3 linked regions of the Homo sapiens genome follow. The protein of the gene in region 1 interacts with the protein of each later gene in a pairwise test. Each region holds a gene or a part of one and is shown in the gene's direction. Other genes may lie near its edges. The genes, in order: CCDC198, PDE4DIP and FKBP6.

What was found.
Region 2: the proteins of CCDC198 (region 1) and PDE4DIP interact in binary tests that used the Homo sapiens proteins (3 or more experiments, as listed by UniProt).
Region 3: the proteins of CCDC198 (region 1) and FKBP6 interact in a two-hybrid assay, tested with the Homo sapiens proteins (one large-scale study listed by BioGRID).

Annotation. Positions count from the first base shown.
Region 1 is NC_000014.9:57,480,346-57,483,998, reverse strand, and holds part of CCDC198 (factor associated with metabolism and energy), read left to right. Parts: intron 1-814; exon of another isoform or gene 815-847; coding exon 848-934; intron 935-2,338; coding exon 2,339-2,440; intron 2,441-3,244; coding exon 3,245-3,404; intron 3,405-3,653. UniProt on the Homo sapiens protein: May be involved in tuning the metabolism, energy expenditure, and excretion processes.
Region 2 is NC_000001.11:149,001,386-149,005,038, forward strand, and holds part of PDE4DIP (myomegalin), read left to right. Parts: intron 1-205; coding exon 206-641; intron 642-1,464; coding exon 1,465-1,657; intron 1,658-2,225; coding exon 2,226-2,345; intron 2,346-3,523; coding exon 3,524-3,653. UniProt on the Homo sapiens protein: Functions as an anchor sequestering components of the cAMP-dependent pathway to Golgi and/or centrosomes.
Region 3 is NC_000007.14:73,338,094-73,341,746, forward strand, and holds part of FKBP6 (inactive peptidyl-prolyl cis-trans isomerase FKBP6), read left to right. Parts: intron 1-2,544; coding exon 2,545-2,739; intron 2,740-3,162; coding exon of another isoform or gene 3,163-3,179; coding exon 3,180-3,289; intron 3,290-3,653. UniProt on the Homo sapiens protein: Has an essential role in spermatogenesis. It is required to repress transposable elements and prevent their mobilization, which is essential for the germline integrity.

The DNA of each region.
Region 1 (3,653 bases):
TCACACAAGCAAATGTACATCTATTATGCATAGATTGTAAGCTCCATGAGGGGCCACATCCACTTTTGGTGACCGTTGCATCCCCATGTCTGGCATGTAGCAGTCATTAAGTAGTCACTGAAGGAACACATAAACTCTGTGGCCCTCCACGTTCCCCATTGCATGTCAATGTCAAGAGACCAGACTTTGTCTCCCAAACCTGCTTGATCACTTCTCAGTGATCAAGATCCGGCTGGAGGCAGACCGGTTGACATGAATTGCTGCCCAGTCTTAGTGACCCCCTGAAATGCCAACATGATCTCCCCTATCAAGCCAAGCCCCTGCTAGAAAAGGACATCTCTAAAATGTGTTAGCACACTGCAGTTTCATTTTAAATGTGTCTCATAATCACCAGTGATTACTACTAAGGAGCTTCTCTAGAGATCTTAAAAACAGATTGCTTCCCTAAGGGCTGGAATAGTTCAGCTGGGTACCTAAGGGATGTGTGAAATAAAATAAATTCCTAGCGCCTCTTTTATCTCTAATATTCTAAGATCCTGGTGGTTTGATAACTTTGGACATGGTCCCTTAATGCAGACAGAAGAGTATCTTAGTCTCCTAACTCTCTGACCAACACTTAGATCAATAAGGCACTGTCGACAGTGCACTAGAATAATAAAGAACCCAGATAGGTTGAAAAGCCCTTTGTACCAATATAACTGTAATGCTGTTAGAATCACCTTTCCTGTATGCTCTCAGAAATAAGTGCCGCTTTTGCAAAGTGTTAAGATAATTTAATGTCTGGCTTTTCTGTTTCATCATCTCATGGCATGAGGAATGCTGACTGCTCTAAACGTTGAACTTCTAGAAGCTTGAACCCATTGACTTGCCACGAGTAATTACTTCAGGAAGACTCCTGAGCCAGCGAGAAGCCAGGACAATGCACAAAGCAAAGGTGAGCTGCAGCAGTAACCTGACAGGGAGGTGAACTGGGGGTGGGCGACACAGGATTGGGGCACTGGAGCACACTGGTCCTTTCATGCACTCTCTGCATGGAGGAGTTCAAAGACAAATCAAACTGTTAAGTCATTCAGAGTGAGAACTTTTCAAAGCTATTTATTCTCTTCTGTGCATGCCTCCAACTGGCAGTGGCTATTACCTCTTGCATGAGCTCTGCACCCTTTTCTGCTTTGTGTTGAAAACCAGGGCAATGTAGATGAGAAAAGACTTTTACTTAGAAATTGGTGATTCTGAAGTTTTCAAATCTGTGAAAAATTCAGCATAAGTCCTCCCTTTCATTCCTCCCCTCAGTTTAAAACTTTTTATTCTCAGTTTGCAGGAGAAATCTTATCTACAAGTTATTCCTGACTTATTTGACACAACCTCACCAAAAATTAATCCTGGGAAATGTCTTCTGTGTATCTTTTCCCTGCTATGCACTTATAATGTTCTGTTGACTAGAACTCCCCTCACATAGAAATGAAAGCTTAGAGGTAGAAGCAGATTTTCAACACTTTCCACTCCTAATTTGTTTTGGAGCTTGCTAGGTGCTGCTGTGTGGCTGGCTGACTTGACAAAGATGTCCAGGTGCTGTCACATCCTCAAGCCCACGTTTGTGGTGCTGACAGCATCTGTGGAGATGGCCCCTCCCTGAGGTTCACATCAGCTGACAGTCACTATCCACACAGCAACACAAAAGGTATTGTCAAACACATCATCTTTCCTGGCAACAGCAAATGACAAATGAAGGTATATTGACCTCTGGCTGCCCTCAATAACCGTCTGCACTGTCCCACTGGAGTTTATGATGCACTGGCGGGGAGATGTTCAGAGTCACAAATAATCAACTTCAAATCCTCCCTAAACTGCAATATTCTCCAAGGCTTATGCTGGCATATGGAAATGCACTCTATAGAAATAGGTTCCATTTCACCATTCAGCAGCTTCCCTCTCATTTCATAGCCAGCCAATTACTCAATGGTAAAAGAGGCAGGGAGAAAAAGAAAGGTTTCCTCAAACCAGAACACAATTCTGGAGAGGTGGTAATAAGCATCTGTTTACAAAGGAAGTGATATCTTGCCAAAAATGAGATGTGGAAAGATATTCCCATTTAAGGTTTACAAAACTCTATAGCAACCTAAAAAACTACATATATACACATCAAAGAGCCACTTCATTCATTGATAGTGACACAAAGGACTTGTCAGGGACACACGATAGTCCACTTTTGTCATCACAAGATATCTCTACAGGTTATGACTGATTAAGATCTGACTCTGTTTCAAAAAGGATCTAAACTTGTGAATTGCAGAGTCAGTAACAAATTACCCCATACTAACAAGTGTGTTGTCTTTCATAGCAGGTACTAGAAAAGAAAATGCAAACTCCAATGTATACTTCTGAGAACAGACAATATTTGCATAAGATGCAAGTGCTGGAAATGATCCGTAAAAGACAAGAGGTAAATACGAGAAGAGTGTCATATTTACCAAATTTTCATCACATAATCACTGCCCTGCCACATGAATATATCAAGCATAGATAGCCAGTCTTTACTTAGCATTTTAAATTTCGTCATTGAGGTTGAAGGTTCAACTACTAAAGCTGAGAAGAATCAGGAAGATTCCTTCTGCTGATAACCTTGTTGAGTCTTTTCTAAGTTTGTATCTGTGTATCTGTGTCGCAAGTCTCCATTTTTAAAAACAGTTTGCTCCTATGACATTCTGGACATAGGAAAATGGGGCTAGATCATTTTTCTTGGTTTAGTGAAAGGAGGAGGGGGTGAGTTGTTCTTTATTCTGATACCTAGGCCTCTCTCTATAATTCTTGCCATAGAATTATCTAACAAGAAAGACCTCTTGTAAAAAAAACAACCAACCAACCAAACAAACAAAAAAACCCTTTACCAGTAATGCCTGTAACTGTCATGTTCCAAATTCCTCCCTCTAGGAAATGAGCCTTTAGTTACTGCTCTCTGGAACTCCAATCATATCAGCTAGCTGACAGAAACACACTTTTGTAAAGGTCCTCATCTTAATTGAGCCATACCTTTTTGAGACTGGGTGCACTCACCTTTCTCTTAACAAGCCTGTCAATAAATAAAGTTCCCATACCTTCTAATAGGAAAAAGAAAACCATGTTCTGGTTAGAGGACTGCAGATGTCTACAGATAAGCACACAACTTGCAAAGTGGCTGATCTGTTGATCTAGTCTGGTGAAAGTAGCTTGGGAAGAACATTGATCATTTATAGTTGATGATTTTCAGGCCCAAATGGAGTTAAAGAAAAGTCTTCATGGAGAGGCAAGAATTAATAAGCAAAGTCCAAGGGACCATAAAGCCAAGAAAACCCTTCAAAGCACCCCAAGGAATGATGACCATGACCTTCTAACCATGTTGCCTGATGAAATCTTGAACAGAGGTCCCGGTGAGTCATGTACAATTTTTTAGTAAAACATTTCAAGTGTTTTTAAAACTTCATCAAATAAACTACCAAGGGAGGGACATGATGAGAAGACAGCAAACAGCTTTGAGCTCTTGCTGAGATTTTTACTTCCCAGAATATAGTGGGCATGTTGTCATGTAATTTTGGATGGCTGGGAGGAAAAGACAGAAGCTTAAGCTTGGTAATTAAATGTCTCTTTCTTTGTATGGGTTTAATATGCTTTGCATGCTT
Region 2 (3,653 bases), on another chromosome or scaffold:
AGCTGTGGAAGTTTGGGCAAGTCTCTTACTTTTCCTGAGCCTTGGCTTTCTTGTATATAAAATTAGGGGGCTGTGGTAGGTCTCAGGTTGCTTCATGCTCTGGGGTAAGTCTGAGTTAATTGCGGGCTGAGATGTTGGTAAGAGGTAGTATTAGGAACTGTTGTGAGGACCAGACCTAGCCCTCAATTAAGTGTGTTTCCTGCAGGAACACCATGCTGAGCCTTTGCCTTGAGAATGCGGAGCTGAAAGAGCAGATGGGAGAAGCAATGTCTGATGGATGGGAGATCGAGGAAGACAAGGAGAAGGGCGAGGTGATGGTTGAGACTGTGGTAACCAAAGAGGGTCTGAGTGAGAGTAGCCTTCAGGCTGAGTTCAGAAAGCTCCAGGGAAAACTGAAGAATGCCCACAATATCATCAACCTCCTCAAAGAACAACTTGTGCTGAGTAGCAAGGAAGGGAATAGTAAACTTACTCCAGAGCTCCTTGTGCATCTGACCAGCACCATTGAAAGAATAAACACAGAACTGGTTGGTTCCCCTGGGAAGCACCAACACCAAGAGGAGGGGAATGTGACTGTGAGGCCTTTCCCCAGACCCCAGAGCCTTGACCTTGGGGCTACCTTCACAGTGGATGCCCACCAAGTAAGTGTGGGCTTAGATTGAGTGAAAAACAATTGGAGAAGGGCTTGAGATGACAGTGTTTACCTTAAAACATTCTCCCATATGAATCAGGAGGTACCAAGAGAAGGGTCTCTTTGTACCACAAACAATAATAGTAATATTCTGCCTACATTCAGCCTTTAGAAAGGCTTTTATAACATAAATATTTCTTGAGTACTTAATTTTTCAGATAACACACTAGGCATTGGCATGGGGCAATAAAACCAATGGCTGCCCCTGAGATACTTAATATTGTCGGGAAAGATGGCACACAAACAGGTAATTTTAACAGGATGTGGTAACTGCTGTAACATAGGGATGCATCAGGTTATGAGGCAGCCCAGACAAGTGGTATGTAATGACATCCCTTATCACTGCCATTTTTTTGTCACAGCTCATCACAGGTGTCTGTTCCTGGGCTTCAGATGGGTTACTGGGATCCTCTTTAGGGAAGGAGCCATGCTGAAGATTCAGTGAAATGGAGAATACAGGGATTCTGAGAGAATCAATGGGACAGAATGTGAGGGGAGATGAGTGGTCTCTTTTTGACCACTGAGAAAACATTTCCTGAGAGCTCCTCTGTAGACTTGATTGGTGCTGTGCTGTGTGCTGTGGATACAGATATGAAGAAAACATTATCCCAGCGCTCCAGGAGCTCCATCTGGAAAGCAAGTCACTGCCAAATGGCATGAGAAGTGCTGTGACAGACTTGAGTAAAGTCCACAGGGTTCAGAAGGGGCGGTGGTCGTCACTGCATGGGGGTGACCTCAGACTGTCCTGATCCCTGTATTGGCCCCTTTCACAGTTGGATAACCAGTCCCAGCCTCGTGACCCTGGGCCTCAGTCAGCGTTTAGCCTACCAGGGTCCACCCAGCACCTGCGCTCCCAGCTGTCACAATGCAAACAACGCTATCAAGATCTCCAGGAGAAGCTGCTGCTATCAGAAGCCACTGTCTTTGCTCAGGCTAACGAGCTGGAGAAATACAGAGTTATGCTTAGTAAGTAACTATGACTTACTAGTAAAGAAAACTAGCCTATATGTCTTATAAGTTCTGTATGTTCTATACCGACATAACGTGGTTATTGAGCACACGAAGTGTGGCTAGTGCAACTTGGACATTTGGTTTTATTTAATTTTAGTTGATGTAGTATAAAGTGGCCATATGTGGCTGCTAACTACCTTATTGGACAGTACAGGTCTAGGGTCTTGGGACTCTAAATTAGTTCAGCTCCATTCAACATTTATTGAACCCCTGCGGATAAAGCACTTGCCAGCTTCAATGGGGCTGCTAGAGATGATAGTGTACAATCCCTGACTTACAGATATCTGGTCCCAACTAAAGCCTGGGTTATCTGAAGGGGAGATAATGGCAAATGCAGGCTCCTCCTTTGGAAAGAAATTCTGCTTCCTGGAGCTGGTGATCTCTTCTCCCACCAGTTCAGAGAAGCTTCTCTCCCACTGTGGATCTGCCTTCCGTGCCTCAAAAGGTTAGGGTATGTGCCATTGAGGCTGAGGGCATATGTGGGAAATTCAGACATTCTGTAACACCTGCTTCTCTTCCCAAGCAGGTGAATCCTTGGTGAAGCAGGACAGCAAGCAGATCCAGGTGGACCTCCAGGACCTGGGCTATGAGACTTGTGGCCGAAGCGAGAATGAGGCTGAACGGGAGGAAACCACCAGTCCTGGTAAGAGCACAGGGTGTGGGGCTCACCCCTCCCTGGAGTCAGCTGTCACATTTGGATGCTGTTGGCCAATTCCACACCTGACAAGTATTGGGGAAGAGGAGGACAGGAGGTTAATAGGAGAAATCTTACCCAAAATGAGGCTGAGTATAAGTTTGAATTTCTACAATTAGTTTTTGGCATACTGCTAATAACAATAATAATATAAAATTCTATCCAACTGATTATTATAGAAATACTAAGGCCTACTTAGAGACCAGATAAGGTTTTAGAAACATGCAAGCCATAAATTAAAAATAATTTTGTTTTGCATTATAAAAAGACTACAACTATAGGGCCACCCACCACATTGAAAACCAGAAGAGAAGAAAAACACAATCTCTCTCATTCTTGAGGCAGTGTAGTGTGGCAGTTAAGAGACAAGATCCTGGGGCCAGACTGGTTGGTTCAAATCCCAGTTTGAAAACTTTCCTATGTCCCAGTTTCTTCATGTGTTAAAATAGTAATAAAGGAACTACCTACCCCATCAGGTACTAAGGTCAATTAAATGAGTAAATTCTTATAAAATGCTTTAGAACAGTGCCTGGCATCTGGTAAAATGCCATGGATTAGTTCTCATTCTGACTACCACTGCCCTAATACACTGATGTTAACATGCTGATATATTTATTTGAAGCCTTATTTTCCTATGCCTATTTTTCATACAGTTGTAACCCAATAAACTTTTAAATTATAGTAAAATTTAAAGAGCATTAAACTTTCAGCATGCAGTAATAGCTTGTCCTACATTCTTGTGGCCATCCTAAATAGATAAGGCCATGTTAATGTCTTAAGAAACACCAGTGTGTGTGGAATGAACACAGGACATTGGAGGATTTGAATTCTGGCTCTGCCATGTGCTAGTTTGAGTGATCTAGAACAAGCTAGTTTACCACCTCTCTTTAAGTTTTGGTTTCCCAGTCAGTAAAATAGAAAGTGATGAAACCTAACTTGTAGGTATAAGGAAGATAAGAAATATTGTATTTGAATGCCTAGTACAGTGTCAGGGTTGAATAAAGTACTACTTCAACTTTTTCCCTAGTAATTATTGTCCTCATGACCAAACCTGCCTCCTCTCAAAGGCAGTGGCCACAACAGCACATCCAACTTTTATTTAGGAAGACATCTTTGTCTTTTTTCAGAGTGTGAGGAGCACAACAGCCTCAAGGAAATGGTCCTGATGGAGGGGCTGTGCTCTGAGCAGGGACGCCGGGGCTCAACACTGGCTAGTTCCTCTGAGAGGAAGCCCTTGGAGAACCAGCTAGGGAAGCA
Region 3 (3,653 bases), on another chromosome or scaffold:
CGGCTCACTGCAACCTCTGCCTCCCAGGTTCAAGCGATTCTCCTGCCTCAGCCTCCCAAGTAGCTGGGATTACAGGCACCTGCCACCACACCTGGCTAATTTTTGTATTTTTAGTAGAGACAGGGTGTCACCATGTTGGCCAGGCTGGTCTTGAACTTCTGACCTCAGATGATCCGCCCACCTCAGCCTCCCAAAGTGCTGGGATTACAGGCATGAGCCACCGCACCCGGACCCTCGTTCTTTTGTAAGGCTACTTTTCCGTTGGATGGCTCTGCTGCTTTTTGTCCATTCATCAGTTGGACATGTGGGTTGTTTCCACTTCGTGATTATTATGACTGATGCAGTGAGCGTTTATGTACAAGTTGTCGTGTGAACACGTTTTCAGTTTTCTTGGGTATGTGCCTAGGAGTGCAATTGCTGGATTGTGTGGGAACTGTCAAAATTTTTGAGGAACTGCCAAACTGCTTCCTACAGCAGCTGTACCATCTTACATTCCCACGAGTAATGTGCGAAGCTTCCAATTTCTCCACATCTTCACCAACACTTATTTTATATTTTTAAAGTTAGGCATCTTAGCGGATGTGAAGTGGTATCTCACTGTGGTTTTGATTTGCATTTCCCTGATGACTGATGACATTGGACATATTTTCATGCATTTAATGACTATTTGTCTATCTTCTTTGGAAAAATGTCTATTCGGAGTCTATGCATATCTGAAAGTTGGGTCATCTGTCTTTGTACTGAGGAGTAAATGTTGCTGCTGTGCTCTGGATACTACACCCTCAACAAACACAGGATGCGCAAATGCTCTATGCTGTTCTGTGGGCTGTCTGCACTTTCTTTGCAGTGTCCATTGAAACACAAAAGTTTTACATTTTGATGAAGTCTAATTCTTTGCTTATTTGTGCTTTTGGTGTTATATCTAAGAAACCATTTTCTAATCCAGGGTCACAAAAATTTACACCTATTTGTACTTCTAAAGTCTGATAGTTTTTTAAAAAAATATATGAAATGCTTTATGAATTTGCATGTCATCTTTGCACAGGGGCCATGCGATCTTCTCCCTGTCTTTCCAATTTTTAGTATATGTGCTGCCGAAGCCAGCGCAGAGTCTTAGAGTTTTAACTCCTACTTTTAGGGCTATGCTCCACTTTAGTTAATTTTTGCATCTAGTGCAAGGTAAACATTCTTTTGCATGTTGATAGTCTCTCGTCCCAGCATTATTTGTTGAAAAGACAGTTCTCTCCCATTGAATGGTCTGGACACCCTTATTGAAAATCAGTTGACTGTAGATATATAAATCTATTTCTGGACTCTGTGTTCAATTTCATTGATCTACATGTCTGTCCTTATGCCGGTGCTACACTGGCGTAATTACTGTAGCTTTAGGAAGTTTCGTGTTTTTTGTTTATTTTTTGTCTTTTAGTAAGTTTTGAAATGGGAAATATGAGTTCTCCAGCTTTGTCCTTTCTCAAGAGTATTTTGGCTATTCAGGGTCCTTTGAATTTCCATGTGACTCTTTTTTTTTTTTTTTTTTTGAGGTGGAGTCTTGCACTGTCACCTAGGCTGGAGTGCAGTGGTGTGGTCTCGGTTCACCACAACCTCCGCCTCCCATGTTCAAGTGATTCTCCTGCCTCAGCCTCCAATGTAGCTGGAATTACAGGCACCTGCCACCACACCCAGCTGATTTCGTATTTTTAGTAGAGATGGGGTTTCACCATGTTGGCCAGACGGGTCTCGAACTCCCGACCTCAGGTGATCTGCCCGCCTCAGCCTCCCAAAGTGCTGGGATTACAGGCATGAGCCACTGTGCCTGGCCACCATATGAATTATCTAATCAACTTGTCTGTGTCTACAAAAAAGGCTGTTGAAATTTTGGTAGGGTTGCATGAATATGTTGACCAGTTAGGAAAATATTACCATCTTAATATTGTCTTCCAATTAATGAACATGAGATATTTTTCCATTTTATTTGAATCATCTTTAATTTCTTTCAACAACCATTTTGTAGTTTTCAGTGTGCAAGTCTTTCAGTTGTTTTAAGTTTATTGCTACTTACTGTATTCTTTTTGATGCTATTGTAAATGGAGTTGTTTTCTTAATTTCATTTTTGGGTAGTTCGTTGCTAGAGCATAGAAATATACCTGACTTTTGGCCGGGCATGGTGGCTCACGCCTGTAATCCCAACACTTTGGGAGGCTGAGGCAGGTGGATCACGAGGTCAGGAGATCGAGACCATCCTGGCCAAAATGGTCATATTAAAATATGAAAAAATTAGCCGGGCATGGTGGTGCACACCTGTAGTCCCAGCTACTCAGAAGGCGGAGGTTGCAGTGAGCTGAGATCACTCCAGCCTGGCGACAGAACAAGACTCCGTCTGAAAAAAGAAGAAAAAAGAAATATACCTGACTTCTTATGTTGATCTTGTGTCTTGCAACCTGTAACAGCCGATTTTTAGCTCTGATAGTTTTTGCGTGTGGATTCTTTAGGGTTTTGTACATAAGACTGTTACTCCTCTTGACCATCTGCCTTCCCTCTCCACAGGCCCTATTGCTTCTGCGCCGGCGATCAGCACCCCCTGAAGAGCAGCACCTGGTGGAGGCCGCCAAGCTTCCTGTTCTCCTGAACCTGTCCTTTACATACCTGAAGCTAGACCGACCCACCATAGCCCTGTGCTATGGAGAGCAGGCTTTGATCATTGACCAAAAGAATGCCAAGGCCCTCTTCAGGTGTGGACAGGTGAGTTGGAAGCCAGTGACTTGGGAATAAACACCCAGGAAAAGGTAGTAGCAGTGCTCAACTCAGCTACTGCAAAAATGCTGTCTTTTTTTTTTTTTTTTTTTTTTTTAGACAGAGTTTTGCTCTTGTTGCCCAGGATGGAGTGCAGTGGCGCAAATTCGGCTCGCTGCAACCTCCGCTTCCTGGCTTCAAGCAATTTTCCTGCCTCAGCCTCTCAAGTAGCTGGGATTACAGGCATGCGCCATCACACCCAGCTAATTTTTGTAGTTTTAGTAGAGATAGGGTTTTGCCGTGTTGGCCAGGCTGGTCTGGAATCCCTGACCTCAGTTGATCCGCCCGCCTTGGCCTCCCAAAGTGCTGGGATTACAGGCATGAGCCACCGTGCCCAGCCAAATGATATCTTTTCTAACTGTGCTTTTAAAGTTCTCTCCTTGGGACAGGCTTGTCTTCTCCTGACTGAGTATCAAAAGGCCCGGGATTTTCTAGTTCGAGCCCAGAAGGAGCAACCCTTCAATCATGACATCAATAATGAGCTGAAGAAACTGGCTAGGTGAGCTGTGTTTGCAGGAGCATGAAGAGAGATGGGTGGGGTTGTGACTCTGGTCTGTCCCCCCACCCCCCCCAACAAAGGACAGTCTGGCGGTGTTGCCCAGAGTGTTAGGAGGCCGCCCCCTCTACAGCTGGGTTTCTGAAGTGCTCGGCCGTGCGCTGCACCAGCAGTTCCCAGCAAGCAGGTGAGACAGACTGCCAGACTATACATCTCCATCATCGCCCACCTTTCTGTTTCCCCTACCGCAAATAAACAACCCCTAGAGAGGTGGGAGGGTGTCACTTTTTTTTTTTTTTTTTGAGATGGAGTCCCTCTCTGTCACCTAGGCTATAGGGCAATGGCATGATCTCGGCTCACTGCAACC